4 linked regions of the Homo sapiens genome follow. The protein of the gene in region 2 interacts with the protein of the main gene of each other region in a pairwise test. Each region holds a gene or a part of one and is shown on either strand. Other genes may lie near its edges. The genes, in order: DOK4, LIX1, TSACC and APPL2.

Region 1 (7,186 bases), on a different chromosome or scaffold from region 2:
AGATCAGGAGCCGGCTCTCCTACCTGCCAGGGCCTTTCTCCCGCGGCAGAGCTGTGGCAGAGTGTTTCTGAAGCACTGATCAAAGCCCTGTGCGAAGTGGGAAGGAGGGCTCTTGAGCGCGTGGCTCCCTGGGGCTGTGAATGTGTATCCTGTAACCAGGCAACCGGCATGCTCAGGCCCCCAGGCCTTCTGCCCCTGATGCTGCGGGCTGCATGGAGCCCACCCTGGCAGGGTGTATCTGGGTCGGCAGCATCCATCCATTCATCCATCCATTCATTCACGGTTCCTTCATATGGTCATTCACTTGTTTAGCATGGCTGTTAATGAGGCTACCAGGATATGAGTGAGGATTCTGTGGATAAAATTCAGTGTCTGTCTTAAGGGAGCGCTGCAGCTGAGAGCTGAGGGCTGCTGTGGTTTAGGTGGGTAGGACAGGGGCCAAGCCAGGGTCAGGGGTGCAGGAGCAGACATGCCTCCTAGGGTCCCAGATAGGAGCCAGAAATGGCCTGGCTCTGAGTGGTATCTTGAAATGGGGGCTGCCTAGGGCCACTGCACCCTGGGACCCTGCCTGCCAAGGACCTAGTGTACGCATGGCACAGTAGGGCCGAGGAGGGGTGGGGCCTAGAGGCCCCCTGGCCTCCTCTGCTGTGCTCTCGGCCACCACTCAGTCTCCCTACTGTTTCCAGTAAGAGGAACACCAGAGATGCCTGGGGAACAGGCTCTGTCGGGCTTTTGGAATGCCCGCTGGAAGGAGTAGGTAAACCCCAGCCACAGACTTTGGGCAGAAAAAAGTCTAGGCAGGAGGGAGGGGTCATGCAAGGGCAGCTCTGGCTGGTGGCTGGGGCCAACTCCCTCTCCACCACCCATGAATGATAGGCCAGTCTGTCCCTTCAATCCTAGAGTGGTCACTCCCCTCTGCTCCCCACCCCCTTGGGGGAGTCCCTGAAGCTACAGAGAATGTAGGTAGTTTAAGGTACAGGGGCATCAGCAGTGGCCAGGGCCAGGAGGGAAGGCACCATGCTGTGGGAGGAGCCTCAGATTCCTAGCTCCACCCCTTTACCTCAAACAGCTTTGGGTTCCCAGCTGGAGCAGGGCCCCTTACATTTCAGGGTTGGTAAGAGAATGAAAAGAGAGGGTGAGTGAAAGCCCCAGGAGACAAGAGTGGGGGTTACCTTTGTAAAGACCCTCACCTGACTCAGAGAACTAGGGGCACGGGGATGTACAGGTGGGCAGGGGGAAGGGTCTAATCCCTATCCCCAGGAGACCCCTCTGTTGTGGCTGGCACTGCCTGAGCCCTGGCCAGATCCTGCAGTGGGCTGTGAGGGTCTGCCCTGGATCTAGACAGCCTGCTGCAAATACCAGCATCACCATTCCTTAGTGTTTTGATGCCTCCCTTTCCCCATCTATAAAATGGGGATGATAACAGAACTGATCTCAGGAGTGGCCCTGAGACTGTGCACAGTGCTAATAACAGGTGTGAGCAGGAAGCACTCAGGAACGTTGGCTACTCACACTAAACTCAGCGGTGCACACAGTACATGGCAGGTCAGGAGAGCACCCTTTGTGGAACAGCGTTTTGGAGCCAGCCAAGAAGTCAATGACTTTTCAATTTGGGGAGGAGGCTTCTCTCCCAGGGAGGTGACACTGCTGGTGACTCCCACCCCCGGTGTCCCCAGGCTGGGGCTCCAGGGAAGGCTGTGCGGCACCGCCCCCTGTGGCAGGCAGGGGTGGCTGCAGGGCCATGCTGGTGGGGTGGGAGTGGTCCAGGGAGGCCTGAGCCCTGTCATCTCGCTCCACAGATCTACCGGAGGTGCTGGCTGGTGTTCCGGAAATCCTCCAGCAAGGGGCCCCAGCGGCTGGAGAAGTATCCAGATGAGAAGTCGGTGTGCCTCCGGGGCTGCCCCAAGGTTAGGAGGCCTGGGCCCTAGCTCCCCCAAGTGGCAGGGCTGTGGGGGATGGAGAGAGAGAGAGGGAGAGAGGGGAGAGAGGGAGAGAGGGGAGAAAGGGGGAGAGAGGGAGAGGAGGAGAGAGAAGGAGGAGGGGGGAGAGAGGGAGGGAGGGAGAGAGAGAGAGAGAGAGAGAGAGAGAGAGAGAGATGCACTGGCCTGGCTAAGTCCCTTGTGGATGCTGTCCCAGGTGACTGAGATCAGCAACGTCAAGTGTGTTACGCGGCTCCCCAAGGAGACCAAGCGGCAGGCGGTGGCCATCATATTCACTGATGACTCGGCACGTACCTTCACCTGCGACTCAGGTGAGGCGCGAGTATGGGCCTCCATCTGCCTCCCCTGGGGTGGTCTTGGTCAGAGGTCCAGCTAGGAGCGGGCAGAGCAGGGCTAACCCTGGGTGGAGATGGTGGTGTGGTGTGTGTGGGGTTGGGGGTGCTTTCAGGGAGCAGGCCCTCAGGGTTGAGGCAAGACAGGCAGGCAGAACCCACTGTCCTTACCCTCCCTGCTGTGCATGGTGGCATAAGTCAGGCTGGGCAGACGGGGTGGGCTACCGGGCTCTGGAGCTGCATGATGAAGTAGCATTTTCTTCAGAGCTAGAGGCAGAGGAGTGGTACAAGACACTATCTGTGGAGTGTCTGGGGTCCCGCCTCAACGACATCAGTCTGGGAGAACCTGACCTCCTGGCCCCAGGGGTGCAGTGTGAACAGACAGGTGAGGCCGGGCCCTGGCCCTGGGGGTGGGGAGGGGGAGGAGGAAGAGAGGAAGGGAGGGAGGAAGTCCCCATCTGGGGCAACTCTGGTCCCACTTGTCCACCCTCCCCCACTCCAGATCGCTTCAATGTCTTCCTGCTGCCCTGCCCCAACCTGGACGTGTATGGCGAGTGCAAGCTGCAGATCACCCACGAGAACATCTACCTCTGGGACATCCACAACCCCCGTGTGAAGCTCGTCTCGTGGCCCCTCTGCTCACTGCGCCGCTATGGCCGGGATGCCACACGCTTTACCTTCGAGGCTGGCCGGTAGGACCCTCTCGCCTCCCAGCCCTGTCCTACTATGGTGTGATGGTGGCTGCCATTCACTCTGTGTTGGGCACTGTGCTAGGAGCTTGGTTTACTTATTGGCCTAGCAATCCCAAGGGGGAATGTAATGTTCCCATTTTACAGACGAAGAAATGAAATGGAGGCTTAGAGGAGTAACTTGCCCACAGCATGCAGGTCAAGTGAAGCTATTTACCAAAAATCATATACTACTTTGGCTTAAGTCAAATGCAGGTTCAGGCACTTACTACTTCTGTGACTGTGGATCTGAGTCTGGGTTTCGGGGATAATAAAGTACCTAACCTCCTAGAATTATAGTGAAGACTGGGTATCCCCTCACTTGAACTCTGGAGTCAGTCTGCCTAGACTGAAATTCCATATAATCCTCTGCAGAACCTTGGTTGAGTTACTTAGCTTCTGTATGCCTCAGTTTCCTCATCTATAAAATGGTTTGGGAAAATGCATAACAATGAGGAAACCATTAATGGTACAGAGACCAGAGGGAGGTGGTAGAGAAAACTGAATGGGTTAATTCTTATAATGCATTTCAAGCACCAGCTGGTATAGAATATGCTCAGCACATTTGCACCGTGTGGTCGGACCCCCAGACCACAGCCCTACCTGTCCTCCCGGCCTGGAATGCAACCACAACTTGCAGTTGCAAGAGAGCCTAACTAATCACATGCATGTCTGTGGTGGGTCCCCACCATCTTGCCCTCTGTGCTGTGTCCCCAGGATGTGTGATGCTGGGGAAGGACTCTATACCTTCCAGACACAAGAGGGGGAGCAGATTTACCAGCGCGTCCACAGTGCCACCCTGGCCATCGCAGAGCAGCACAAGCGGGTCCTGCTGGAAATGGAGAAGAACGTGAGGGTGAGGCAGCGGGCATCAGTCCAGGGTACGGGGGGAGGGGGGAACGGGCGGGCAGGCAGGGCCAAGTGCCTGGGGTACACAGTGGAGGCAGGTAGGGTCTTGGGGTGGCTGCTCAGGGATACTGTAAGCCACTAATGGGAGTGACCCCTTCCTTTGCCCCACAGCTGCTGAACAAGGGCACGGAACATTACTCGTATCCCTGCACACCCACGACCATGCTGCCGCGCAGTGCCTACTGGCACCACATCACTGGTTCCCAGAACATCGCCGAAGCCTCCAGCTATGCTGGTGAGTCGCTTCCATGCCCCACACCCACCTGCCAGGAGGCTTTGTGGAGGATGAGGCCTATTGGGCAGGGGTCTTTTGACCTAGCTCTGAGTTCTGAGCCTGCTTCTGTGCCCACAGGTGAGGGGTATGGGGCAGCCCAGGCCAGCTCGGAAACAGACCTCCTCAACAGATTCATCCTGCTAAAGCCAAAGCCCAGCCAGGGGGACAGCAGTGAGGCCAAGACCCCATCCCAGTGACCACAGTGCTGGCGAGCACCGATGACTGCTGGGGGCTGCCTGCTGCGGGGCTGGCTGCAGTGTACCGTGGACAGCCTCAGGGGGCTGTCGGCCAAGAGCCTGGAGAAAGGGAGCAAGCTGCCCCCTCCTTGCCCCCAAGGATGAGGCTGGACTGAGGCAAAGGGCTGGCCACACCACCTGAGCATGTGTGAGGGGTTGGAGCTACCGTGGGACTATATACTGTTAATGATTTTAATATATATGGCTTATGACATACTCTGTATCAATGAGATCCCCTCACCCTCACCCCATCCTTCCCCACCAATACACACAAATTTTTTAATCCCATGACCAGGCCACGGTCAAGGCTGTTTTTGAGTATGAGTGCAGTCGTGTCCATCCTCCATGGCACAGCCCTCCTGCTGCCAGGACCTGCTTGAACTACCAGGGCCACAGGAGGGGGATAATCAGAGCTTGAGGCTGGCACTCTGACTGCTGGCTTTTCCCAGACAGCCCAAGGGCCGGAACAGCAGGTGGCTTCTCAGTTCCTCTGGGCCTGGAGTGACACAGGAAGGATCTGCACTTCCTCTGTGCTGCTTGCCAGCCTTGCAGTTGGAGTTTTAAGCAGAGGTGACATCTGGTTGACGCCTCAGGTGAAAATCTGGTTTTAAAATGTAACTTCTGCACAGGCTCCTTCCTGCTTTGTAGGCTGGGAAGATGCCCCTGGGGTAGGGGTGCTGATTACCTCAGCCATGTGGAGGAAGGCTGGAGCTTGTTCCTGCCCCAGGAATAGGCCAGGAGGGAAGGCCGCAGCAGGACTGCCGTGGGGAGCACCCCTGCTGCCCCCCTCTCACTGACCAGGGGTGGACAATGCCCAAGCAGAGGGAGCCCCCTTGCCCTGTTTGGCCACCCTCTGGCCAGCCAAAAGCACTCTGAAACCAAGACCTTCCCATTTCCTCCTCCCCACATGGTGCTGAGGCTCCCTGCTGCAATGCAATTAAAGCAATTGATTTTCTAGTGCTGGTATTTGTTGACTACCATGCAGAAGGGCTATCTTTCTATTCACGTCAAACTTTTGGTTGTGTGGGGTTTTTTGTTGTTTTTTGGGTTTTGTTTTTTAATACTTTAGGGTCCTGATTTGTGGGAACAGACCTTCTTGTAAATAACCACTATTTGAGTTGTGGCAGGAGGATGATAAAGCACGCGGCCCCTCCCAAAGGAGCCCTTGAGCTAGGGAGGTGGTGCAGTCAGCCTCGCTCTCAACGTGACCCGGGGAATGACCACCCAGAGGGATGAGCTAGCCTGTAGAGGGGAACTGGGGTCCAAAGGTCTTTGGGGAGGGAGGCAGAGCTGGCTGGCTCAGCTAAGTGGCACGATGACGCATGAAGGAGATTATGTTGTGCTCTTTATTGCCAAAAATAAACACTTTTAAAAAGACAACTTCTGTTAATCAATAAATATCCTTTCCTTTCTGTACTGGATCTCTGGTTTTCTCCAGGCTGCCTAATTAACTGCTTTGTGCATGTTCCTATCTGGAGACAGTGCTGAGGGGTTAGGGCCAGAGCCTTCATTAAGGAGAAATGAAATACTCCTCCTGTGTATGTGGGAGGGGCCCTTGCTCCTGCGGCTGCTTCCACCCCCACCCCCACCCCCACCCCCACCAAACTAAATGATCAGGTCATTGGAGGTGAAGGGGTTCATGACTGCTGGACAGAGAATGAAATATCATGTTTATTTGGTGGGGAGGGGACAGCCAGGGTCTAATGCTATTCCAAAAGGTTACTTCTCAAATTAGGGACACCTGGGAATTTGAAGCGCTAGCAGGCCAGCCCTGGGGCAAGAACTGGAAGGGTTTATAGGCCCCCTGAATAAAGGCTATGGCACTTGATCCTCAACACCAGACATCTAAGGTACAACTGAAAATGACTCATTTTGGACAGAAAGGGTTTAGAGTAAAGAGCTGGACTAACCAGGAGAGAAGTCTAGTTGGTTCCCTACAGGTGCACTGGAAACACTCCAGCAGGGACCTTCTGGGATCTGGGGAGCACTGCTGCCAATTATTAACAGCAGTCAGGGCCAGTAAAGACCTATCCTGCCTAAACACCACTGCATCCCTGGTAATCTATCTATGACCCACTTCTAGTTGGTACTGATGTCCTGCCAAGAAGCTCAACCAACAGTAGACTAGATTCTCAGAAACGAGAAGAGTCTGAAGAGAGACCCCCATATCCAGCTGCTGGCCTGAATCTCCGTTTTTGCTGAAGCAGGCAAGCTGCAGTTAATTTATGGTTAGCACATCACTCTGGATCTCGTGGCTTAATTGAGTTTGTAAATCACTCAGTTTCTTCTTCAATCCTGAGAGGGCTGACAGGACAATGGTTTCAGGACGCAGAGAGCCACAGGACTCCACATTGTAGTAAAACCTAGGAGGCAAGAGTCCAGTGAGTGCACTGCGAGGCAGGCTGGCCGACCCGAGCTCTGGCCATGGACAACCCTTCCTCCTTCCGGGTCTTGGCTCTGTTCCCACATGGAACTTGACCTTGGGCCAGGGCTAACTTCCTTTCATGTAAAACCTCTTACATAGGGTAGTTTCAACACACTTTGCACAACCTCAAGGAGGCTACAACTACCTCATAAGGTACCTGTGAAAATCCTAAAGTTCTGTATGTATGCATGCCCCCTGAGGAGAGAGTGGAAAACCAAGTGAGCAGTGACCAGTGATAGACCTTTCACAGTCACCCTGTGGAACTTGGGTCCAAATCTCTGCCCCTAGCGTTGACCTGAAGAATCTCTTCTTTGGGGGCTGAAAATCAGAACAGGAACCACC
Region 2 (8,779 bases):
GTACTTCATTTATACTTTGTGTCCAATCAATGGATAATAGCTTTTTTGTCCACAAAGCATCTAATTTCTGTTTTAGATGATAAACTCCTGGACAGCAAGGACATTGACAATTTCCTATTTGGCACAGCTCATATAAAGTGCACTTTGGGACCCTGTTTAAAGAAAATGTCTTAACATGAAGGGCCACTTCTTTCAAGTTCTTATCTTATACAATGTCTTTGCACTCTGGGGCAACCCTGTGTCTGTGTTCTGTGTGGCATATACTCCCTGCGGGCATTTGCTAAGTGATAGTCATGATATGGTTTGGCTGCGTCCCCACCCAAATTTCATCCTTTTTTTTTTTTTTTTTTTGAGACAGAGTCTCACTCTGTTGCCCCAGCTGGAGTCCAGCAGCACAATCTCGGCTCACTGCAACCTCTGCCTCCCCAGGTTCAAGCAATTCTCCTGCCTCAGCCTCCCGAGTAGCTGGGATTACAGGCATGCACCACCACGCCCAGCTGATTTTTGTATTTTTAGTAGAGCTGGAGTTTCACCATGTTGGCCAGACTGGTCTCGAACTCCTGACCTCAGGTGACCCGCCTGCCTCGGCCTCCCAAAGTGCTGGGATTACAGGTGTGAGCCACCACACCTGGAACCAAATCTCATCTTGAATTGTAGTTCCCATAATCACCACGTGTGGTGTGAGGGACCTGATGGGAGGTAATTGAATCAGGGGGGTGATTACCCCCATGCTGTTCTCATGATAGTGAGTAAGTTCTCATGAGATCTGATGGTTTTATAAGGAGTTTTGCCTCTTTGCTTGGCACTTCTTCTTCCTGCTGCCATGTGAAGAAGGATGTGTTTGTCTCCCCTTCCACCATAATTGTAAGTTTCCTGAGGCCTCCCCAGCCATGCTGAACTGTGTGTCAATTAAGCCTCTTTCCTTTATAAATTACCCAGTCTTGGGTATGTCTTTATTAGCAGCATGAACTAATACAGTGAGTATAATAGGAATTATTATTCTAGTTCGGTTCCATCTATTTCCTTTTATGAAGCCTGCTCTTCTACAAACTAGCTGAAGAAGCTGATCACATGGAAGGTATTTCATTTTTATACAGTCTTTAAAGGTCTACTTTCAGTTCATCATAAAATACAACCTAGTTATGGAATCTGAAAATTGGAAGAAACACTGGAAAGCAATCTTTGTGGCTACCCTGGAAAAATATTTTAAATAAAAGTTTGACAATCCTCAACAACCTCCTTCAACAAGTAACATTGGTTACAACCACTAAAATTAGTTATTTTATATCTGGTATAAATCCTTATTATGGAAAAGGAATCCTGTGACTTATATTTATGTCTTCTATGGAAAGATTATTTAACAAAGTGTTACAGGTAGTATAGATCATGAATAGGTAGAAAAAGAATTTCTGTTTTCTTAAGATCTTTAAAGGCCAGGCATGGTGGCTCATGCCTGTAATTCTAGCACTTTGGTAGGCCGAGATGGGTGGATCACTTGAGGCCAGGAGTTTGAGACCACCCTGGGCAACATGGTGAAACCCCCTCTCTACTAAAAATACACAAATTAGCCAGGTGCGGTGGCGTGGGCCTGTGGTCCCAGCTACTAGAAAGCCTAAGGTGGGAGGACCGTTTGAGACTGAGAAGTCAAGGCTGCAGTGAGCCCGGATCATGCCATTGCACTCCAGCCTGCATGACAAAGTGAGACTCTGTCTCAAAAAAAAAAAAAAAAAAGGATACAGCTAGGGACTAAATTAAGCCTTGCATTTGAATTCAGGAGCCACTCTTCTGGAAGCCAAGGCTTGTTACCCCCCACAACCCTCCCAAATTTTAGTCACTTCTATTGGGCAGGGGCAAGTAAAACCTGACAGACTGTCTTACAGCTTGCCTGGGAACATTTGTTTCCCTATTTACCCTTCAAAGTGAATCATTCCCAAGGTTGACTTTAATTAATTCTGATGTAATTCACTTCCTTTCACTTAATAATTATTAAAAATTTCAGGGCAGGGTGCAGTGGCTCACGCCTGTAATCGCAGCACTTTGGGGGCCCAGACAGGATGATTGCTTGAGCCCAGGAGTTTGAGACCAGCCTGGGCAACACAGTGAGACCCCATCTCTACAGAAAATTTAAAAATTAGCCAGGCGTGGTGGCGTGTGCCTCCCAACTACTTGGGGTGCTGAGATGGGAAGATTGCTTGAGTCCAGGGCTCAAGCCCCTCACTTGAGTCAAGGCTGCGGTGAGTTATGATCACGCCACTGCACTCCAGCCTGGAGGACAGTATGAGACCCTATTAAAAAGAAAAATAAAACAAAGAAACAGGACGAGAAAATACATATATGTTTCTTAAGGTAGTTATTGAAAGATTTTTTTAAAAAATTGAGACAGGGTCTTACTTTGTCACCAAGGCTGGAGTGCAGTGGCACAATCTGGGCTCACTGCAGCCTCGACTTTCCAGGCTCAAACCATCCTCCTGCCTTAGCCCTCCAAGTAGCTGGGATCACAGGCATGCACCACCACACCCAGCTAATTTTTGTATTTTTTGTAGAGTTAGGGTTTCGCCATGTTGCCCAGGCTGGTCTGGAACTCTTGGGCTCAAGCGATCTGCCCGCCTCAGCCTCCCAAAGTGCTGGAATTACAGGCATGATAAACTGCACCCAGCCCCATAATCTTTATAGCACTCCTTTACCAAAGAAGAATTACACTGAAAATTTAGATTTATAGGGATTATACTGTTAACATATAGCTGGCAGTCCTGAGCTGGAAGCTGTCTTGTCATTCAGGAAATTTCCTGGAGAAATAACCTTCCTGATTCCATATTCCTGGGGGCAACACAATTGAAGATGGAGGGCCAGAAGAAATACTCAAGTCAGAAAGCTGCACAGCATTCAGACAAAATCTGGTTGGAGAGGAAAGCTGTTTTCATAATTTAGCGAGCTTCCCCAGCTAGCCTGTAGGTGGGTGTGTTTAACAGAAGAAAGCAATGGGAACCCGCCTGTCAGCCAGCCTTTCGAGCTAATTAGCTCAGCATACAACAAAGATAAGTGAGCCTGGGAAGAGGGCCCCCTGAGGGGTCTTTAGATTCTGGGAAATGTCTGATTGGCAGATGTTAAAAGGGATTCCTTGGTAATCCAGTGCATCAATGAGCTGCAGAAATTCAGCCCAGGACTGCAAGAATTCAGGCATGAGGACACTCTGTACAGGAGGCTCACACAGGCAGACCCAAGATGGACAGAACCTTGGAATCTCTGAGACACATCATTGCCCAAGTCTTGCCTCACAGAGATCCGGCTCTAGTCTTCAAAGACTGTAAGTACTGAAGGGGGAAAAGTTTTTTGACTTTTTAGAAAATAGTCCTAAACGTCAAGTCACATCCTATTTAAGTAAGATTTCTCCTAAATCTCTGCAGTCGTATGCTGTGTTCTAAGTGATATTTTAACTTGTTCCTGACTTCAGCCAGAAGAACGATTTCATTTCACCTACAGGCATTAGGCACTGGGTTATTCTGTCAGTGATACATCTTGCTAACTACTTAGAAGTCTCTTCTACAATCCAAGACCTGCCTAAGACTTAATGAACTTTTTCTGATGCTTTTTAAGTAAAGCAAAGCTGACTGGTGTTGAGATTAAACCTAAAAATAATTTGGAAATGATACTAGAATATATCAATATTTGTTAACCTGTTTAATACTCCACAACACATATTAGCTATGTTAATTCAAGTATCGTGTTTGTCTGAAAATATTTGTTGCAAACCAGAATTAACAGTAAATCACCACTGAACTTTTAAATTTTGATAACAGATTATAATGCTTTAGTTAAAAGGCCAATAAAATGAGATGCCTCCTAACCTCAGCAACACTCCCTGTGTGGACCCCCTACCACCATCACCAATTTATACAGCATGGCAAAGTTATTTCAAAATCTTTTTTTTAATGATTTAAAAATAATTCAATCAAGATTTCCAATTCTAGCAATACTATTAAACCATTTGTCATATAACTTCGTTTCTGGAACCAATTTGATTTCCTGCTGCTGCAAAACAGACTATCTTCATGTTGTATCTTATCTACAGTGGGTTTCATATTACAAAGGGCTTCTGAAATAGAACTGCCCAAAAGGTAAAATGCATATGGAATTTTTTTTAACTTCAATAGGTTGCAGCTTTCCTCTTTGTGAATCTAGTTGTGTTTGTCTCCATCAAAACATCAATGGTTTGAATTTTTGCTTTCTGATTGCTGAATAACGTTCCATTCCAGATGTCCTCTTAGCTTAGATTTCTCATATGTATGTTGAAGAAAGAGGAATGTTAGGCCATTTAATTCTATAAATTTTTCCTCTTAGATGTTAAATTGTAACCAATCTGTCCTTTAAGGCATAAAGTGAAAGCCTTTTCTTTCTCTAGCTCTCTTTTTAAATATTGTCTTTAGGCATTTGCCAATAACTATGTTAGATCTAATAAAAATCACTCTCTCCACTACTCTAGCCTGGAGTCTATTCAGGTTTGTTATGTTTTTTAAGCGAAAAGGGGAGGAAAGAATGTCTCTCTCCTACAATAGAACTGATTCACTAGTGAGGGATAAAAGGGCTCTCGGGCTGCCCAAGCTTTGGATAAATTGTATAGGACCAGGGTTCTTATGCTGAGCATTTAAATAGGGGAAGCAGTTAAAAAAAAAATAGGGGGGACGTTTTTCACTGGCCCATTGAAAACTTAATAAGTTCAAATGTGAAACTGTATAGCTCATTTTTTAGCTGAACTAAATTGCTGCGATTGTTTACAGTTTAGAAAAGAAGATAGACTAGAAAAAGGATTACAATAAAGCATACATTAAGTTCTGTCATCCAGGACTTTGCAGGACTTCTTTTATATGGGAGAACAAATAAGTGTCCTGTTTTATATATTTCATTCATTAACATAGAACCTATATTTGACCAGAGAGCATTGCCTGTTTACCCTAGAATGGACTGCTACTCGGCAACTGCTTGCATGGCTTAATAGACGTGAATATTAAACTGCCGATTCTCTCCCTTCTTTTCTAATCTGAAAAATGACTAAATGACAGTAAGCCAAATGGCACATTTCTGTACCAGGAGTTTTCCTAACTTTAAAACATCCAACCACTTACCAATCTCGTGGAATAAGTGGGAATGGGCTGCTTACTTTCTGGGACAGGACATTAAAAGTCTGTCTGGAGCCTATGCCATTGCCCTGGCAAGCTGTAGGTGCTGCACACGCCAGAGTTTGGCATATGGTCCCATTTTCTTTGGCATACCCATAAGTTGCTGCCACCACACTCCTATTGGCAGCCTGTAAAAAGCTGCCACCAGCCTTGAATGGCAGGTTCTGAGCAGTCCCCTCTCCTCCTAGTCACTGCTGGCTCCTCCTCCACTCTAACCTGCTCCAAGCTCTTTCTGCCAGAAGGAAAGAGCTGAGCACTTGAGCACATCACTGCCAATTCCTTAAGAAAAATTGCTACCTTACTTTCCTACAAGATGAAAGCTGATCCAAGAATTTTTAAAACCCAGCCCAGTTGAACAAAAGAATAAACACACACAAACACACAAACACACACACATGCACACACAAAACACTTTTAAATTTTTTCTTAATTTATCTTCCATGAATGCAAACACAGTTTTTCTCTCTTCACTCTTTGGTTATACATAATCCAGGGAGTGTAAATGATCATGCAATTCATTTATTGCCCTCAGTTGGCTTTTGATTTGCTTAAAAACAAGCAATAGTAACTGAATTTTCTCTTCAAGTTGGTTAGAAAAAGCACCCAGAGAGTTTTCTGGTCTGAAACAGATGCACATGGGAATAGTTACATTCATTTAAAGAAATAAAATTCAAATGCTTTCTCAGATGAGGAAGCTCTTCAAATGGTATTTTGCAATACATTAAACCTGTCATTTTATTTTATACAAGGCGTTCATCTGGCAATAGTTGTGATTTGTTTCTTTTTTTATTTTCTCTTCTAGAAGGAAATAAATTCCATAACACTTTTTTCCTTTTCCCTATTTCACATTTCATATGAAAAATAATGGAAAGAGGTTTTAAATAAGATGGACTCCCAATTTGAAATTTGTTCATCTAAGCTGACACTGGACTGTTCTCCCCTGCATAAATGTCTCTATTTTAAAACAAGTAGCACTGGAAGTCTCCACACTACCAGGCAGAATCTCTGCAAAGTATAGCTTGTCTCCATATTGCTTTCCATTCTTGGCTTTGTGCAATATCCAATTTCGTTTCATGTGTCATGCATCACAACCAAAGCTGAGCTATCCTAAAAGCAGCCCCTGTCCACTCTTTTGAAGAAGTGTGTTAACTTACTATTCATTTGCCACTGTTTGACAATTCCTTGCGTACTTTCTCAAAAGAAATCACCACATGACTTCAAGATAGCTATGCTTTCAGATCCTAATCTGAGTGTTAACTCTTCATATTACAAGAGCACAATACATTTATCTGCCATCTTTGAGCTCTTTCTTCAACCATTTAATAGTAAGGCTAAGACATCAAGTCCTCATCATGTGATAGGCACTGTACTAGAAACATTTATTCTTCACAGTAAGCTAGTAATGTAGGTACAATTGTTGTTAGAGGTGAGGAAACTGAGGCACACAGAGGTTAAAATGACGTGCCCAAGGTCACTCAAGGTCACACAGCTAGTATGTGATAGAGCCAGGAATCAAATTCTGTCTTCCAACTCCTTACCTTGAAACACTATGAGACATTGCCTCTCAGAAGTGCTAGTTACCATGTCATTAGTGTTGTAATAGCAGTACAGGTTGAGTATGCCTTATCTGAAATGCTTGGGACCAGAAGTGTTGTAGATTTCAGATTATTTTTGGATTTCAGAATATTTGCATTATATATACTTTAGCACCCCAAATCTGAAAATCTGAAATCTGAAATGCTTCAATGAACATTTCCTTGGAGTCTCATGTCAGCAATTAAATGTTCTGGATTTTGGAACATTCTGGATTTTAGGTTTTTGGATTTGGGATGCTCGACTTATATCTGTTAGGAAAACAGAGGGGAGAAAAAGGAACTCTACCAGGAGCATAGAGGGAGCCCATTAAATAATCACATTTGAACAGAAGTGTGACAAGAAAGTGGTGAGGGGCAGATAATTTTTGATGAGATAGAACAGCTTGTCCAAAGACAAACTGGGCAATACAAGAACCATGTGCTGGGGGAGGCAGAGACAGACTGAGGAGGCAGGTTGGGTCATGCTGACATGCCGGCAATAGGGAGCCATTGGAGTTAACAGTAAATTAGTTCTGGAAGTTTATGGCCTTATGTTGCGTTGCGGAAAAGTTTATATTGACATTGGTTAGAGGTACACATCCGAATACCTAAGTTAGGGAACACTGCAGCTTTTTCTTAGCAAGAAACCATTTGCCAACTCAGACAAGATGCAAGATTTGTAAATGTCAAACATGCCTATGAGGAGAAACCACTTTCACTGACTGAAGGCCAAAATCAGGGCAAACTTTCTCAAAAAGATTGTTTAAAAAGTATCTTAATTGTCACTGTAGCCATGAGAATGAGTTGGTTTCTAGCATTGACTTATGAAGTGACATGTAAGATTTCACTGAGATTTTTTCCCAAATTTTATAATGAAAAAGTAAGATGGATCCTTTACTAAGCGTTGAAAAATTGGAAGCAAATTTCTCACATATTTGAGGTGCATTAACTCTTCCATTTGGGAGAACATTTTTCTGCATGAAAGGTTTTATTTATATCAGATAGGTGAATACTTTACTTCAAAGAGTACGTTTTTTGCCCTTTGGAAAAACTGGACCAGACTACAGGGCTATTAAAAACATCTTAGTAATCATGAATCTAGCTATATGCAGCATGAGAGAGCAAGAATCCTCAGGAGTCAAGTACTTTATCCACCCCATGCTTTTTAGTACAGTTATGTGAAATCAATAAATTTATAGTTTTCACATTTCACAGAAAGGAATGGAGTAGGATGTAAAGGCTGAAGATTCTTGTGCAGTAAAATCCCTATACATATTGCATTGCATTCCACCACCCCTGAAAAAATACAGTTTAAAACCACAAAAAAAAGCCAAACAAAAATAAACCCTATAGTGCTTGCTAGCTTATTTTAAAATAATGAGTGCATCTTAATTACAGTAATTTGAACTCTGCTAATTTTAGCATCTAAACTATGGATGTCTGTTTGACTGAAGCCTATTCAAATGCTAATTTTACTTTATTTATCATAGGGCCTAATTATTTTTATTTGAATTTATACTAAGGAAGAAATATAAATTTTAGTACAGCTATCAATGGCATAAGAGCTGGTTCTTTTTTTTTTTCAGTAAATATACATTTGACAGAGTTTAAAGTTAAATGTATAAAAGTCTCAACCCTAGAAGACAGGTTTTCAAACTGGAAAAAATAGGTAGCTTCTTGATCACTTTATGGCTTTATCTGTCCTAGTACATTTATTTCTCATAGAAAAGTAAGATTTAACAGATCAAAATAAATATGATAGACACCTATCCTGTGAGATCAAATCTGGGACCTCTTCATTGACTGCTCTCCCATCTCACCAGAGGTCTTTGGTGGTGGTTGCTGTTGTTTTTAACAGTTAAGATTTGTTAGTCTGAACTCAATTTTAACAACTTCTGAAACTCATGTGTTAAGTTACAGCCCATAATAGGATACAGATGCATAAGGGTGAGTTTCTAAGTTATGATCTTCTGTTTAAATGACACGGTTTTACTGATTATGTGCTACAGATTGATTTAAGAAATGTAAGAC
Region 3 (2,985 bases), on a different chromosome or scaffold from region 2:
GTGCAGGGATCTAATTAGAAAGGCTGTCCCTTGTTGGAATGAGCTCTGATTTAGTTATCTCTGATTTAGTTCCAGCCAAAGAGGAAGCTAATGCTGTGCCTCTCTGTAGAGCAAAACCCTCCCCCAGCTATATTAATCTTCAAGCAAGTTCCCCACCAGCCACTTTTCTGAACATCCAGACAACAAAGCTGCCCTCGGGTAAGGATGTAGGGAGGGTTTTCTAATGGACTCAACAGGGGGAAGGGTTGCATGGAGGAGGTGGCTTGAGCTGTCGCCTATTGATCAAGAGCCAAATCTATGTTAGGCATCTATAGATCTTTCCGTGATAGCTTGTTGATTATTTAGTTTCATTGATATCATTATCATCCCAGTTCTACCAACTTGTATTGTTTCCTTGCTTGTTAGCACTTTTGCTAGACTAGGCAGGAGTGAAGTGAACCTCTCATTGCTTACTGGTAATGTTAGTTAAAAGATGGCCAGGTTTACCCCTGTTCACTTGGGAAGGTAAAATTTTAAAAAACGGTGGCTAGAGAAGGAAACTATTAGCTCAGTCTCAGGGTCTTTGAATTTTCATCATTCATCTTCCCTTGGGGAGGTCAGTGGGTATTTGGCATAGCTATGGGGAACCCAACAGGGCACTAACTAGACAGTCATAACCCCTGTTTTTGAGGACCTCAGAGTCCAACAAAGAAGTCAAGACTGATAAAAATACAAACAGCAGATAATATAATTACCAAGGTTAACTGGCTGTGTAAAATATTAGAAAAAGTGGCTGGGCACGGTAGCTCATCCCTGTAATCCCAGCACTTTGGGAGGCCAAGGCAGGTGGATTGTCTGAGGTCAGGAGCTTCAGACCAGCCTGACCGACATGGTGAAACCCTGTCTCTACTAAAAATACAAAAATAAGCTGGGCGTGGTGGCAGGTGCCTGTAATCTCAGCTGCTTAGGAGGCCGAGGCAGGAGAATTGCTTGAACCTGGGAGGCGGAGGTTGCAGTGAGCCAAGACTGGGCCATTGCACTCCAGCCTGGGCAACAAGAGTGAAACTCCATCTCAAAACAAACAAAAGAATGGACTGGCAGGGCTCGGTGGCTCATGCCTGTAATCCCAGCACTTTGGGAGGCCAAAGCGGGCGGATTACCTGAGGTCAGGAGTTTGAGACCAGCCTCACCAACATGGTGAAACCCCATCTCTACTAAAAATACAAAAATTAGCTGGGCATGGTGGCACCTGCCTGTAATCCCAGCTACTTGGGAGACTGAGGCAGGAGAATTGCTTAAACTGGGAGGTGGAGGTTGCAGTGAGCCAGGATTGTGCCGCTGCACTGCATCCTGGGAGACAGAGCAAGGCTCCATTGAAAAAAAAAAAAAGAAAAAAGAAAAATATTAGAAAAAGAATGGACTGGCCAGGTGCAGTGGCTCACACTTGTAATACCAGCACTTTGGAAGGCCAAGGCAGGTGGATCACCTGAGGTCAGGAGTTCGAGACCAGCCTGGGCAACGTGGTGAAACCTCGTCTCTACTAATGATACAAAACTTAGCCAGGCATGGTGGCACATGACTGTAATCCCAGCTACTCAGGAAGTTGAGGCAGGAGAATTGCTTGAACCCAGGAGGTGGAGGTTGCAGTGAGCTGAGATCGTACCATTGTACTCTAGCCTGGGTGACAAGTGAAACTCCGTCTCCAAAAAAAAAAAAAAAAAAGAAAAAGAAAAAAAACAATGGACCAATGTAGCAAGAATGGTTGAAGTTAGGGAACTTCAGGTCACTGCTAATGATACACTATGTCAAGTAACAGAGGAGGCTGAGGTATCCCCTGAGCTCTAGGGAAGGTAGGCCTCCCTCCCAGACCATTTCATTCACTCATCAAATATTTGTTATATGCTGGGCATTTTTCTAGGTGCTAGGGTTAAAGTAGTGAACAAATCAGATAAAAATCCTTGCCTTCCTGGAGCTTACGTTCTAGAAGGGGGACTTAGACAAAAATTAAGTAATTATAAAATATGCCATATGACCATAAATATTATGGGAAAAGTGAAACAAGGGAGGGGGTAATAAGTTCCAGTGATTGATTTCAAATTAAAATAGGATAGCCAGGTATGCCTCACTGGGAGGTGACAGCTGGGCAAAGGTATGTCTGGGTTGGGTTGTGCCTGGAAAGATTGGAGAGGTCATTTTATTAGGGTCCTTCCAACCTCAGTACAATTACCAAATCTCTCTCCTTTGTTCCCTTGCACCTCCGTTGCTTTTCCTTCTGGAGTTGATCACAAGCCCAAGGAATGCCTAGGACTCCTGGAATGTATGTATGCAAACCTCCAGCTTCAGACCCAGCTCGCCCAACAACAGATGGCTGTTTTGGAACATTTACAGGCATCTGTGACACAACTGGCTCCTGGGAGGGGAAGCAATAACTCTTCTCTCCCAGCCTTATCTCCTAATCCATTGTTAAATCACCTGCCCCAATTCAGTAAATGAATTGTGGAACAAAGTTATTGTGTTGTTTTCCTCTCTCTTCCCAGTAAACCCTTGTTGGAATCTGGGTATATGTATTCTACATATGGTTAGTTTGTTCACAGGTTCATAATAAGTGCTCACTGAGTGCAAAGCGTTGTACAAGGCACTTGGGGTTACATATTACAAAAGGAGTTTGCAGGGATTACTGTCTAACAAAGCAGACAATTCATTGCAAAATGTAGTGGTATTCTGAAAGAGGATGGAGGTTAAGAACTAACACTGGAGGTTACTAGGATACAACTGGACCAATTTTAGAATCTTGCTGGAGAAAGTGGCTTCATGATGCCACTTGAAGAAGGGAGGGGTTGGATGGCATGGACAGATGAAGTCAGGTAGTTCCATATCAGTTGGGAAGCTTGGACAAAGACCTAGAGGTAGACGTATTAGTCCATTCTTGCATTGCTATAAAGAAATACCTAAAGTTGGGTGATTTGTAGAGAAAATATGTTTATTTTGGCTCATGGTTTGGTTCTG
Region 4 (8,150 bases), on a different chromosome or scaffold from region 2:
TGCCTTGTGTTATACACAGCTAGATGTCCCTGAGTAAGTCAGTAAATGCTCTGGGCCTTTGTCTTCTCAGCCTTGTGACATACAGGGAACTAGCTAACCTCCTAGGACCCTTCTAGCTCTGATATGCCATCTCTCAAGGGTGTTGATGGATAGTTTAGGGGGGTTTGGAATTAGAAGGTGTGATACGTTTCCTAAAAAGACAATTTGCAGCCTATATTTAATTATTCAGTAACTGACTTTTCCCCCTATTCTAGAATAAGCAAGTCACATTCTTAGACCAAAAGGACCCCACAGAAGGGACACAGAAGACTCCCTGGGGGGAAAAAAAATGACTCTAGCCAGCCAGCTGAATTAGCCCAGTGATTGGATGGGTGACAGATGTGGCTGCCAGATGGCCCCAGAGCTGTGGGGAGAGGGATACTATCTCTTTTAGGGTCAGCCCACTGAGAATAAAGCAATGTTTTGATGACAGTGGGGGGGGAAAGAATCAGAGAAATTGTGTTCTTGGGAACAAACTGCTATTTACTTCTAAGCAAGTACCATGTGTGGACTTCCCTCATTCTGCAGTTACTATATATCTGCTGTTCATTCATTTATCTAGCTACTCAACAAATATTTGAGTATCTACTATTTGCCCAGGCCTGGCCTAGGTAAGAAAACGCAGGGATTACTGGGGAGAACAGGCAAAAGGTAAGCACAGGCTGAGTTAAAATGAGGGAAGCACCCCAATGTTAAGGAGATGAGGTGCTGTCATGGAGGGTGAAGAGGAGACCTGTGCAGGGCCTGGCTGTGAAGATAATATTCAAGCTGCAAAGTGAAAGACAAGACGCAGCCACTCTTGCAAAGAGCCAGAAGTAGTGTATTCTTGGTAGCAGTTGTGGAGGTAACAGGACAGAGAAGATCTTAGTATATCTGAGGAACTGAAAAAAGGCAGTGTAACGGGACAGTGGAGATCATGGGACAGGATGAGGGCGGGTGGGGAGGGAGGCAGGGGTCGATCAAGAAGGAAGCATGTGGGGAGCTGTGGAAGGGCTCTGAGAGGTGCGTGTTTGTGATGGAGACAGAGATACCCACTCTCCATTTTCCAAAGTTAGTTAGCTCTGGCTGCTCTGGAGAGCACAGAACAGAGCAAGTCTGTAGCCAGTGAGGAGGCGTCCCAACAGCCCAAGAGAAGATGATGGTGGTTTAGACCAGGATCACGGCAGAGATGAAAAGTAGATGGATGTGGACTTATTCTGGAGGTAAAACCTGTGGGACTTTTGATGGATAAGCGTAGACGGAAAAGGACAGATCAAAGGATGACTTCAGTTGGAGCTGAACACCTGGGCAGATGGTGTTTTTTAAAAAAAAGAAGAGTTCATGTTTTGGACATGTTAAGCATGAGAGGCCTGTGAAACATCCCAAATGAGTTGTCAAGCAGTCAACGGATGATACAGGTCTGGAGTGCAAAGAAAACGTCTGGTCTGGGTGTATGAATCGGGGACTCATAGCACTGAACAGCAGTGGATGAGGTCCTCTATGGGAGAAAGGAGAGGGAGGGGAAAGCAGAGCCTGCAACAGAATCCTAAAGAACTCCAGCATTTAGGGTAGAAAAGGAGCCTGCCAAAGACATTGAGAAGGAACATCAAGAAAGGTAGAAGGAAACTCTGTAAAATGTGGCACCAGCCGAAACCGAGAGGAGAGTTCAAGGAGAGATCAGCTGTGTTAGATGCTTTAAGTCAATTATGATGACTGCGAAGTGTCCATTAGAGCTGATGACATGGAGATCCTGTACAGGTGAAACTTAACATCATGTCACTCCTATGTTCAGAGTCTTTGGTGGCTCCCTATACTGTTGTGTCAAGTTCAGACCCCACCTGACGGTATAAGGGCCCTCTACAACCTGGCCTCACCCTATCTTGATTGTTATCTATCTCCCCCCTTTGACTCTCTGGGGAGCCAAAATCTTAGACTCACTTTCTCCCCTTGAAGCTTCTACTCATAGCTTTCTTCAGTGCTTACCACTTATTATATCACAGCCCTCTCTTAAAGACAGGATCAAACAGATGTGACTGTCCCATTTAGGGTTATTGAAGCAGTATGACATCCTGGAGATGCACTCTCCTGGCAGTGAGGAGACCCCTGTTTATAATCTGGCTCGCCCACCAGGTAACTGAGTGCCTTCAAAACTGCTCAATTTCTCCAGAGGCCTCAGTTTCCTTTTCTGTTAACAATGGAGGTCAGACCAAGTGGTCTCCAAGGGCTTGCCTTGCAGTGACCATCTACAAGCCTATGTACTGTTTCATCCACATTCCAGTCATTATGATCATTTGTCAAATGCCTGTTGTAAAGTAGTTTGATACACTACATTCAGTTATTGACATGTTTGAGAAATAGGAAAATATTGACATATCAAATGAACAGAAAGATCACTGAGAGCTTTTTAAGGTCCAGGCAATGAAAGAAATCAAAATACATTGATATTCTTTGCCCTTCAAAGGAGTTTATAGTCTGGCTGAGGAGAAAAGATTTTTAAAACGTTGAAAAGTTAAATTACAGTATTCTGAGACTGGAGGAGAAGAACATGTTGGTTCCTGATTAGTCTGTCCACAGAGAGCACAGTATTTGATGGGCCACAATGTCAGCAATGAGTGTGGGCACAATGCGAAGCTCAGGAGGCACACAGGGCCGCAAGACTGTGCCTGTGACTTACTGAGAAGAATCACAGGAGTTCAGAGGAGGGAGGCGGGGTGCCGGCTGGCCTAGTGGATAAGGAAGAATTTGAGCTGGGTTGGGAGAGTTGGGTGAGCAGCAGAATTGGGATAAAGATGGAAATAAGGAAAAGCATGTGGTATGTGTGGTACAGCTCTCGTAGAGGGTGCATTAAAGGAGTGGAAAGGGAGGCTTTTGGGGAAATTAGAGCCAGATGGTGATTAAATGCCAAGCCAGGACCTTTGGTTCATTCAGCTAACATTTTTTAGTGCCTACTATGTTCCAAGAATACATATGACTTAGCTATAGCATAGGCCCTCCAAAACCTGCCTCACAGAGAAGGATACAGACAGAAAACTAGTAACACAGTGCAGGATGCTGTGCAGCAGAGAGAACTGCAGGAAATGGGGCAGACTGAAGGTTTTTAGCCAAGGATATGAAGGAAGTTTGAAGAAGGTTTATTTGTAGAATGGATTAAGGGATTGAGGTCAATCTTTCCCCTTGTATTTTCATTCATAAAAGTCACCTCAGCCTTCAACAAGTATTCACTTGATTATAAAAGCGTAAGGTTAAGGGAATTGATTTTTTTCCCCTTCAGCCAGAACCTGAAAAATTCAGAGATGGAAAATGAAAATGACAAGATTGTTCCCAAAGCAACAGCCAGTCTACCTGAAGCAGAGGAGCTGATCGCGCCTGGAACGCCGATTCAATTCGATATTGTGCTTCCTGCTACAGAATTCCTTGATCAGAACAGAGGGAGCAGGTATGGGCTGAGAGAGGTTATCTCTGGGAGAACTGAAAGTAAATTTGAGGTATCTTGTGTCCCCCTCCACCACCAAAGACTGTTGCCATTCTGATTTCCAGTTCAAGTGTTAAGTGCCCTTCTAGCTGCAGCTGTCGTGTTTGTTCAACTCTGGCTATTCCCCTAGGCGTACCAACCCTTTTGGTGAAACTGAGGATGAATCATTTCCAGAAGCAGAAGGTAAGTGACTAGTTTGGTGTCCTTATTCTTTCCTCTGCACAAAATGACAACGGCCATTGAAATAAGATGTGAAATCATGTTTTAGAGAGCTATGATTAGGAGTATGAATTAAGATTTGTTGTTCTGAAAGTTTAGTAAGATATCTGCAGTGGAGGCAAGTCTTGGATAAAAACTGAGGGGTAGCTGAAAGACCACCTACAGCTATTTCACCATTAGCCATAGCGTTTTTGTAGCATAGCATAGAAATGTTGTGAAATCTGAATCTGTTATCACATTCAAATGCAGTCTTGGTGAACTGGAAATACGCTGTGTCATTTTAGAAAACCAAAAGCACAAATAACTTGTTCTTGAATTTGAAGATGACACAAATGATATTTAAGTCTTTCAAATTCAAATTTTTGGTTTTTTACATTCTTATAATGTACTTAAGAACGTATCTGATGGCCGGCACGCTGGCTCACGCCTGTAATCCCAGCACTTTTGGAGGCCGAGGCAGGTGAATCACGTGAGCTTAGGAGTTCAAGACCAGCATGGGCAACACAGTGAGAACCCTGTCTCTACAAAAATATATATATATATACAAAAATTAGCCAGGTGTAGTGACAGGTGCCTGTAATCCTAGCTACTCAGGAGGCTGAGACATGAGAATCACTTGAACCTGGGAGGCGGAGGTTGCAGTGAGCTGAAATCATGCCATTGCACTCCAGCCTGGGCTACAGAGTGAGACCCTGTCTCAAAAAAGAAAAAAAAGAAAAAACCTTCTTTGGTCTTCTAGTTATGGTTGCTGGGAGTCAGTTTTGTCAAGTTATGCGCCACTGTCAGCAGCCAGGACTGACTTCCTTTAGGCTATGAAACATCATCACTGCCTTTCCGTAATACACATGAAGTATGAATTGCATGAGACCCAACATGAGATCTTATATCCTGCAAATAAAATTTCTTTTCTAAGAGGACTTTATCAGTGGGCCAAAGTAATGAATTTTCTATTGTCTAGTGAACTCACTCTTTTCAGAGAAAAGGTACAATGTAGTCACCTAGAGTTTCAGCATTAGAAGGATGTTCATCTGGTACCACCATCATTTCATTTTATAGATGAAGAAAAGCCTTTCTAGTCTAATGAAGTAGTTCCAAACAAACTGACAAGATGTAGACAAATGGAAGACGCAGAGCTTTGGCAATATTGGGCTTATAAAAGTGGTATTGAGAAATTTTGGTAGAAAGTCCTCCACAGAAAGCAGGCAAAACTAGCACATCTGACCCTGGTATGCAGATCAACAGCAGCAGGAAGTAAATGAGATCCTGAGTGGAAAATGCTGTCTTCCAGATTCTCTTTTGCAGCAGATGTTTATAGTTCGGTTTTTGGGATCAATGGCAGTTAAAACAGACAGCACTACTGAAGTGATTTATGAAGCGATGAGACAAGTATTGGCTGCTCGGGCTATTCATAACATCTTCCGCATGACAGAATCCCATCTGATGGTCACCAGTCAATCTTTGAGGTACGTTCAGTTTTATTTTCAGACTTTCTTATGGCTTCAGCTAATTCCCCTTTTAAGGCTAATGCACCCATCTGAAATGTTAGTACTGGAATGAAGAGACTACTCTTGCTTTTGCCCCCACTACTTTTTACATAAGATAGATAGCCTAGAAAGTGCTCCCTTAGAGACAAGAACTGGTATCTTCAAAAATCCAGTGGTGAGTGAATACTGTTGTTCACAAAGATGCCATCACACTAGACTTATTCTCTATATTATAGCTCAGAGCTTGAAAATGGAAGTTTTTTGGTTTTGCTTTTTTTTTTTCATTTCTGAGAGTACTATTTATAAAAAATAATGGAAAAAAACTTAAAAATCTGCCTAAATAACTTGGCCATCACAGAGAGAGCAGGCCATATTAACTACATGATTTAGTGTTTCAGGTAATACGATCTGGGTTTCAGATATGACCAAAATCCTGGTTATGAACATGGGTGTATGATACTGTAGCCACAGGTAGCATCTGCAGCAAAACTAGCCTGAACTGAGATGTGTTTTCAGTGTTAAATACATACCAAATTTCTAAGATTTAGGATGTAAAACATCTCACTAATTTTTTAGGTTAATCACATGTCTGGTAATATTTTAGATATACTGGATTAAGTAAAATTAATTTTATCTGTTACTTTTCACTTAATGTGGCCGCTGGAAAAACTTCGATGACATATAAGGCTTCCATTACATTTCTAAGGGACAGCACTGCTTTAGAGCCAGAATGTCTCAGTTTATTCCTGGCTTCGGCATTTCTTAGTTATGTGACCTTAAGCAAATTTTTGAGCCTCTGTACCTCAGTTTTTTCAGCTGTAAAATGAAAGTAACTATTCACACCCTCCACTGTTGTCATGAGGAATAAATGTCATGAGGAATAAATGTGCTAATATATGTAAGACATTTACAACTCACTGGCACATGAAAAGTGCTCAATGAACGTTAGCTTCAAAAAAGGTAACTAGGACTATAGCAAAAATTAGGATATAGCTTCTTCCATTCATTAAGCCCATCCTTTTCATTTATTATGAACCTTATCTGAGAATTAAGTTCTTATTAATAAAACCTGTTCTTTCACTATGTCCTGGACCTTTTACAGAAATGGGCTCATGGTTCTTATAATCCTATTGGTCCTGGAATAATTTCCACCAAAAAGATCAAAGGAAAATATATGTAAAAGTACTGTGAAAAACCACAGCACATCAAAGTGAAAAGAAAAACTACAGAATGGGAAAAAAGTATTCACAAATTCTATCTAATATGGATGTAGTACACAAAATATACAAAGAACTCTTATAAAACTCAACAGAAAGACAACCCAATTAAAAAATGGACCAAGGACTTGAAATAGACATTTTTCCAAAGATCATATACAAATGGCCAATGAGGACATGAAAAGATGCTATGTGTTACTAGGGAAATGCAAAACAAATCCACAATGAGATATGTCACTCCATATTAAGATGGCGTGCGCACGCATGCACACTGTCTCACAGATGTTTATATATATATGATATATATGATATATATATGATATGATATATGATATGATATATGATATATATATGATATATCATATATATGATATATATGATATCGATATCATATATATGATATATATGATATATATATGATATATATATTTAATGGAAAATAAGCGTTTAGCAAGGATGTGAAGAAACTGGAACCCATTGCTGGTGGGAATATAAAATGGTTCAGCTGCTGTGAAAAAATAGTTTGGCGGGCTCCTGGGTAGTTACCCAAAAGAATTAAATACAGGTGTTCAAACAAAAACTTATACGCAAATGTTCATAGCAGTCCTTTTCGTGATATCCAAATGGTGGAAATAATACAAATGCCCAACATCAAATGAATGGATCAACAAAATGTGGTAGAGTTGAGCATTCCAAATCTGGAAATCTCAAATGCTCCAAAATCTGAAACTTTTTGAGTGCCAACTTGATGCTCAAAAGAGATGCTCATTGGAGCATTTTGGATTTTGGGATGCTCATCCTGGTAAATATAATGCAAGTATTCTAAAATCTGAAAAAAAAGCTGAAATCCAAAACAATTTCAGATACAGGATACTCAACCTGTATATATATATGATGGAATACTATTTGGCCTTAAAAAGGAACAAAGGACTGATAAGTGCTACAACATGGATGAATGATGAAATCATTGTGCTAAGTGAAAGAAGCCAGGTACAAAAGGCAACATACTGTAGGGTTCTGTTTATATGAAATATCCAGAGTAGGCAAATCCATAGAGACAGAAGACAGACTAGAGATTGCCAGAGGGTGGGAGGAGGAATGAGTAACTGCTTAATGGGGATGGAGTTTCCTCTGGGATGATAAAAATGTCCTGGGACTAGATAGTGGTAATGGCTGCACAAAGTTATGAAGACACTTAACATCACTAATGATAAATCTGACGTTATGCATACGTCACCACAGTAAACATACCCCTGCAGTGGAATAGGTTCTGAGACCATTTAGAGGTCACACAGAAAATTAGAAGATTTAAAAAGAAAAATTGATTCCCAGACAAGGTGCCTGAATAGGAACAGCTCCAGTCTGCAGCTCCCAGTGAGACCAACACAGAAGGCAGGTGATTTCTGCATTTCCAACTGCGGTACCCAGCTTATCTCACTGGGACTGGTTAGACAGTGGGTACAGCCTATGGAGGGCAAGCAGAAGTAGCGTGCGGCATTGCATTACCCAGGAAGCACAAGGGGTCGGGGAACTCCCTCCCCTAGCCAAGGGAAGCCGTGAGTGAGGGACAGACCTATCCAGCCCAGATACTAGGCTTTTGCCACTGTCTTTGCAGCCCGCAGACCAGGAGATTCCATCGAGTGCCTACACCACCAGGGCCCTAAGTTTCAAGGACAAAACTGGGCGGCCATTTGGGCAGACACTGAGCTAGCTGCAGGAGAATTTTTTTCGCACCCCAGT

What was found.
Region 1: the proteins of LIX1 (region 2) and DOK4 interact in a two-hybrid assay, tested with the Homo sapiens proteins (one large-scale study listed by BioGRID and IntAct).
Region 3: the proteins of LIX1 (region 2) and TSACC interact in binary tests that used the Homo sapiens proteins (3 or more experiments, as listed by UniProt).
Region 4: the proteins of LIX1 (region 2) and APPL2 interact in a two-hybrid assay, tested with the Homo sapiens proteins (one large-scale study listed by BioGRID and IntAct).

Annotation. Positions count from the first base shown.
Region 1 is NC_000016.10:57,470,571-57,477,756, reverse strand, and holds the end of DOK4 (docking protein 4), read left to right. Parts: intron 1-1,799; coding exon 1,800-1,907; intron 1,908-2,136; coding exon 2,137-2,251; intron 2,252-2,537; coding exon 2,538-2,657; intron 2,658-2,774; coding exon 2,775-2,964; intron 2,965-3,717; coding exon 3,718-3,856; intron 3,857-4,020; coding exon 4,021-4,144; coding exon of another isoform or gene 4,145-4,261; coding exon 4,262-4,380; 3' UTR 4,381-5,835; downstream 5,836-7,186. Other genes in the region: POLR2C (DNA-directed RNA polymerase II subunit RPB3), read right to left, coding at 6,638-6,782. UniProt on the Homo sapiens protein: DOK proteins are enzymatically inert adaptor or scaffolding proteins. They provide a docking platform for the assembly of multimolecular signaling complexes.
Region 2 is NC_000005.10:97,137,020-97,145,798, reverse strand, and holds the start of LIX1 (protein limb expression 1 homolog), read left to right. Parts: upstream 1-3,187; 5' UTR 3,188-3,222; coding exon 3,223-3,304; intron 3,305-8,779.
Region 3 is NC_000001.11:156,344,511-156,347,495, forward strand, and holds the end of TSACC (TSSK6-activating co-chaperone protein), read left to right. Parts: intron 1-69; coding exon 70-198; intron 199-2,257; coding exon 2,258-2,472; 3' UTR 2,473-2,485; downstream 2,486-2,985.
Region 4 is NC_000012.12:105,185,295-105,193,444, reverse strand, and holds part of APPL2 (DCC-interacting protein 13-beta), read left to right. Parts: intron 1-3,289; coding exon 3,290-3,454; intron 3,455-3,620; coding exon 3,621-3,673; intron 3,674-4,997; coding exon 4,998-5,172; intron 5,173-8,150. UniProt on the Homo sapiens protein: Multifunctional adapter protein that binds to various membrane receptors, nuclear factors and signaling proteins to regulate many processes, such as cell proliferation, immune response, endosomal trafficking and cell metabolism.